Regions from separate parts of the Homo sapiens genome. Here region 2 is linked to region 1. Evidence: fine-mapped expression QTL. A gene starts in region 1. The other region holds a variant in brackets. All regions are shown on one strand. Distances are between the middles of the regions. Region 1 holds the start of FGFR2 (fibroblast growth factor receptor 2). Region 2 overlaps FGFR2 (fibroblast growth factor receptor 2).

Region 1 (3,017 bases):
ATGTATAGGCTCTGGGGCTAATCCAGGTTAGAGGACTTGACCAAAAACATACCCTCCCACCAAGCATATAGAGGGATAATTTTGCTTAAGAACCAGTTTTTATTTTGTTGCTATCAAATTTCCAAAATACAATGTTATAGCCTTTTGCCTGAGGCAGTTAAATGGATTTCTTACTTGTGTGGCTTTTAAATAACTTGCATAAACGTTTTCTGTGCTATATTTGTGAATAAAAATGATTTTCTAATCATGTAGCACCTTGAAAAATATTTTTGTAAATGTTATGAAGGGTGCAATGTTAGTGACACAGGTGCAAATATGTTTCTAAATCCAGGAAAAGTCTGTTTTCCAAGTCAGGTTTGTTCTCAATGCTTCATCTATCTTCAGGCCTCAAAAGGATTCTAAAGCATTTCTGGGTTTAGTGACCTTTTCTAAAGAAAAATAATTAAGGTTTTAATCTATATGGTCTTGAACTTAAGCACGGCTGCTCAGGAGCTGGATGAATAAGGAGGGAGAAAAAGCATATTTAAAATAAATTATTCCGAAGACACGGCTTAGTGAAAAGGTAAATGGACATAGGAACTTTAACCAGTTACAGCTTGGTGTGCAGTTGAAGAATCAGATTTTGCATTTATGATTTTTAATCTAAGATTCAGAGGGAGGAATTACTTTGTTCAAGGTCTATTTATGGTAGAGTTGTCTTTAGACTCCTTTGAATTTCTTTTTATTAATCCAAACATATATTATTAAACACTTTTTTTTTTTGATGCAATTTTGGCTTTTTCTGAGAGAGCCACATTCAAAGTCAGGCTGTCCTAGTAGCCAGCTGTGTGGTCCTAGGCAAATTACTTAACCTCTCTGATCCTGTTTCCTTATCAGAAACTGGGAATAGTACTCTGCAGGGTGGTTGGGCAGATGAAATAGAATCACCTATGTAGTGTGACCCTCCCATAGTAGGGCCTCCATTAATATTCAGTTTTTTCCTCTCATTTCTATTGTTTAGAAGGACAGAAACATGCAATGTCCTGCGAACATTTCCAAGTGGCTTCCTCTCCTCCAAAAGCTTCAGCTGCCTGGCAACCCTCCCCGCAGTATCAAGCAGGCGCATTTTAAAGTCTCTTTAGCGGGAGGGCAGGGTTAGAGCCTTCGGTCATTTGTTTTCTAACTTGACATAAAACAACGTAACGCAGTCGCTCAGCGAGCCGTTGGCCAGCCTCGCTCGCCCGGGGAGGAGGGAGGAGGTGGCGCGGGGCGCGGGACCAGGCCTTATTCGGAGGCTGTCGCTGCATCCCTACGGCCGCATCGCGGCCGAGCCCTCGCCTCCCGGGCCGGTGTCTCCGGCTGCTCGGAGGCGTCGGGAGCCGCGCGGGACTCGGGGCGGCCCGGGCGCGCGGCGCTGATTGGCAGAGAGGGCGCCGCCGTCCAGGAAACGGCTCGGGTTTCAGTGGGGGCGTGACCCGCCGCGAGGAGGCGGGGGCGGCGGCGGCGGCGCGGGCGGCGGCTGGAGGAGAGCGCGGTGGAGAGCCGAGCGGGCGGGCGGCGGGTGCGGAGCGGGCGAGGGAGCGCGCGCGGCCGCCACAAAGCTCGGGCGCCGCGGGGCTGCATGCGGCGTACCTGGCCCGGCGCGGCGACTGCTCTCCGGGCTGGCGGGGGCCGGCCGCGAGCCCCGGGGGCCCCGAGGCCGCAGCTTGCCTGCGCGCTCTGAGCCTTCGCAACTCGCGAGCAAAGTTTGGTGGAGGCAACGCCAAGCCTGAGTCCTTTCTTCCTCTCGTTCCCCAAATCCGAGGGCAGCCCGCGGGCGTCATGCCCGCGCTCCTCCGCAGCCTGGGGTACGCGTGAAGCCCGGGAGGCTTGGCGCCGGCGAAGACCCAAGGACCACTCTTCTGCGTTTGGAGTTGCTCCCCGCAACCCCGGGCTCGTCGCTTTCTCCATCCCGACCCACGCGGGGCGCGGGGACAACACAGGTCGCGGAGGAGCGTTGCCATTCAAGGTAATCGCCGCGCAAGACGCCTCGGGGAGCTTCGCCAGCCGGGGACGTGGGCGCCACGGGAGCCCGGGACGCCGGGTGCACCGTCCTCCGGGCGGGGGGCGCGGAAGGACTAGCATTGTGGAGGACGCTCCGTGTCCTCCCTCTGTGGCTGCATAGGTGATGGGGGAGGTGGGTGCGTGCTGACGGCCGGCGTTCTGGAAGTTCTGCCTCTGCTACCCCCATCCAGATGCTGACATCTGCTTCTGGCGTTGACGCCCCCCTCCCTGTCAAACCCTGGCGGGCGCATTCCCGCTGACTGGGCGCGTTTCTCCGACCCCAGAGCAGACGGGCGGAAGGTTCGCCTGCCCGTGGCACAGCCCCGCAGGCCGGTTCCCGGGGTCATCTCCGAGGTGCCCCATCCGTGTGTCCTGGGAACTTCCGTACCATCCAGGCCCTGCGGAGACCCCTTTTTCGGGAGGGGGCCGCTGGGGTGGGGCCGGTGACATCCCGTAGGGGTGGCGATGGCCAGGGGTGGCACTGCTGGGGAGGCGACGGCTCCGGTGCCTGGGCGCCCCTCGCCCGCAGCCGCCGTCGGCGCTGGAGGGAGCGCAGTGCGCCTGGGGCTAGGGGGCGAACTGGACCGACTTTTTCTAGTTCGCCTGCCTGCTCTGCCGCAGCGGCTGGGAGATGTCGAAAGCGCAGGCGAGTTCTAACTTGCGCGCTCATTTTTTTCGGCCACGGGGCCGCGCTGGGGAAAAAAGCCGAGGGCCCTGCGTGGCGCTGGCTCCGACCCTCGCGGACCACGGACCTGGCGCAGGAGGCCCGCTCGGGGACCACCAGCCTCCGTCGCTCTCCTCGCACCCCGCTCCCTTGCAGACCGTTCTCCAGACCCTCCTTCCTTTCTCCCAATTCAATAAAACCTACCCTTAAAGGCAAACCTGCTTTCAAACTCAGGGCACCCATTATGTGTTTGGTGTGAAACGCTATCAACATTTAAAACTCCATTGTCTCCCTGGTCCCAAATCCCTGTAAATCTTCCACCGGGCTCGAC
Region 2 (2,731 bases), 78 kb after region 1:
TTGCAGTTCTTTTAGATAAATAGAGAAGTGGGATTGCAGGATCTTAGGGTAGTTCTGTTTTTAATTTTTTGAGGAACCTCCATATTGTTTTCCATGGTGGCTGCATCATTTTATATTCCCACCAACAGTGCGCAGGGGTTCCAGTGTCTCCACATCCTTGCCGACACTTGTCTTTTTTTTTTTTTCTTCCCATCCTGACAGGTGTCATGTGATAGCTCCTTGTGGTTTTGATTTGGAACGCGCCCGATCTCGTCTGATTTGCATTTCTCTAATGATTAGTGACATTGAGAAACTTTTCATACACCTAGTGGCCATTTGTGTCTTGGAGAAATGCATAGTTAAGTCCTTAGCCCATTTTTCCATGGGTATTACTTAACACTTGAGGAGTCTCATGTGTGGTTGCTAGCACACCTTGGCTTGATTGTCTCCACAAAAGTTTTGCAGAGACCGCCTCTTAGCTGGAGAGAAGCCTTTCCAGGCATAAGATGAGAGGGTGTATTCTTTGTTGAGAACGTGTTCTCGAAGGAGAGAGAGGCAAGACAAGTGAAGCTAGGAAGTAATTTTGGGATACCATCTCTGCCCTTTTATAGGGCAGTCTAAAACATAGCCAGGAGTTGGAAACCAGCATCTCCTTATGTTTCATTCAGTGCCATATTGGAATAAGCTAAGAAACATCTACTTGTGCATTTAGTAACTGGCATAGAGTAACACCTGATATTCATCAAAGAGCTAAATGGGTGAATAAAGAATGAATGAATGGAGTGAATTCCACAATAAAGAGGTGAATCCCATTATTAATCAAATCTGTTCATAACTTTGGGCTTTAGGCTTTAGTTTAATTTTTAAAACAAAGGTTGGAAGTCTTCTCAGAGCATCTTAGAAATGTACTGGAGCCGAGCGTGGTGGCTCACGTCTGTAATCCCAGCAATTTGGGAGGCCAAGGCAGGTGGATCGCTTGAGCATAGGAGTTTGAGACCAGCCCAGGCAACATGATGAAATCCTCTTTCTATAAAACATTTGAAAGTCAGCTGGGCGTGGTGGCGGTTGCCTGTAGTCCCAGCTACTCAGGAGGCTGAGGTTGGAGAATCACCTGAGCCTGGGAGGCTGAGGCTGCAGTGAGCCGTGATCATGCCACTGCACTCCAGCCTGGGCAATGAAGTGAGACCCCGTCTGAGAAAAGAAAAAAAAATGTATTGGGAGACATGTGCCTATTGAAACCATTTTTGGTATTCAGAGTGTCTTTAAAGTTAGTCTTGTCATTTGCCTGTGATGTTAAGCTTGTGGTTGAGGTGAGTTTTTGAGATTATCTCAAATAGGATAAGTGAAGAAGCTTCCCTCCCCTACCATTTGTCACTTAGATTGTCAGAGTAGAATTTCTTCCCGTATTCATCAGGTGGCAGTGGACAGCCAATAACCTGGGATGTAATAAGTTCTTTTCTCAATTTTCTAAGTAAGTGTTCTTTTTACAAGGGTCGCGCTCCGGCAGTCTCCTTTGAAGTCGTTTCTGTTATTCATGGGGCCACAGTGTTATTTCAAAGGTGTCAGCCAGCAG[G/A]CTTGAGGCTTTTCTGGCATGAGGTCACTGACAGCCCTCTGGACAACACAGCTTATTTATTGGTCTCTCATTCTCCCATCCCCACTCCTCCTTTCTTCCCTCTCTCCACCAGAGCGATCGCCTCACCGGCCCATCCTCCAAGCCGGACTGCCGGCAAATGCCTCCACAGTGGTCGGAGGAGACGTAGAGTTTGTCTGCAAGGTTTACAGTGATGCCCAGCCCCACATCCAGTGGATCAAGCACGTGGAAAAGAACGGCAGTAAATACGGGCCCGACGGGCTGCCCTACCTCAAGGTTCTCAAGGTGAGGACTTTCTGAATCTAAAGGTACCCACAACTGGGGTCTCCTTCATGGGTTTGGCCACAGGTTCTTTGATTTCCTGTTGGAGTTGAGAGAGGATGATTCTCTTTTTTGACTAGCCAGCAGAGAGTGTTCTAAGGAATTAACAGATCATTACACTTGCTAGTAGAATTTCAGAAGGGAACTATGGAGTAGGGGAAGAACTACTAAACTTGGGGAAGAACTACTAAACTTGGAGAGAGAATAGTTCAGCTATTTATCAGCCCTGAGATCGCAGACATTTAGGCTTAGCTGCGCCTCTATAAAAGTAGAGATCGTGATACTCTGTCCCCCATAGGGCGGTTGTGCAGAATAAATGGGATGGAGTGGATGGAAAGAGCTTTGTAGGCTCAAGGCATTGTGCCAGTGTTGATTGTTACTCTGATGTTGTTTTCTATTAATAGGACATTAGGATCCAATTTTAGTAGCCACGTTTTAGAAACAATTTGGATTTTTTTTTTAACAAAAACAAAACAAAACAAAACCCTGACCTTTGAAATCCATTCAGAGGTGATTTAGACAATAAACTCTAGGTCATATTTCTGCACCAGTGAAATGTTGAACAAGGAAAATATCTTTCCCTCCTTATTTCTTATTTGCAAGCCCCCATTTTCATAGCATCTGCCTCTTTTTTAGATCTAGGTTTGCTCTTCAGGAGACTGAGGACAGGGGCAGCTAAGTCTGTACAGCTGGCTCTTAACTCCTTGCCTACCACGCCTCCCATGTCTAGTTGCTCATGGAGAATGAATGTCCTTAAGAAGAACATTCTTCCAGTAGAACCATAGGTGACCCAGCTAAGAACTTTCAGCCAATGAAGTGTTCTCACCAGCTAATAATTCC

The links. PIP is the estimated chance that this variant, and not a neighbour inherited with it, causes the effect.
Region 2: its variant is fine-mapped to the expression of FGFR2 in blood mononuclear cells (TOPMed, PIP above 0.99).

The regions. Positions count from the first base shown.
Region 1 is chr10:121,596,932-121,599,948 of GRCh38, reverse strand. It overlaps FGFR2 (fibroblast growth factor receptor 2), which reads left to right and starts at 1,505. Exons shown (of 18, transcript NM_000141.5): 1 at 1,505-1,987. RefSeq lists an enhancer at 2,299-3,017.
Region 2 is chr10:121,519,103-121,521,833 of GRCh38, reverse strand. It overlaps FGFR2 (fibroblast growth factor receptor 2), which reads left to right. Exons shown (of 18, transcript NM_000141.5): 7 at 1,665-1,855. Among named protein-coding and RNA genes, the nearest start is that of FGFR2, 78 kb to the left of the region's middle. The variant G/A (reference allele first, on the strand shown) is at 1,553.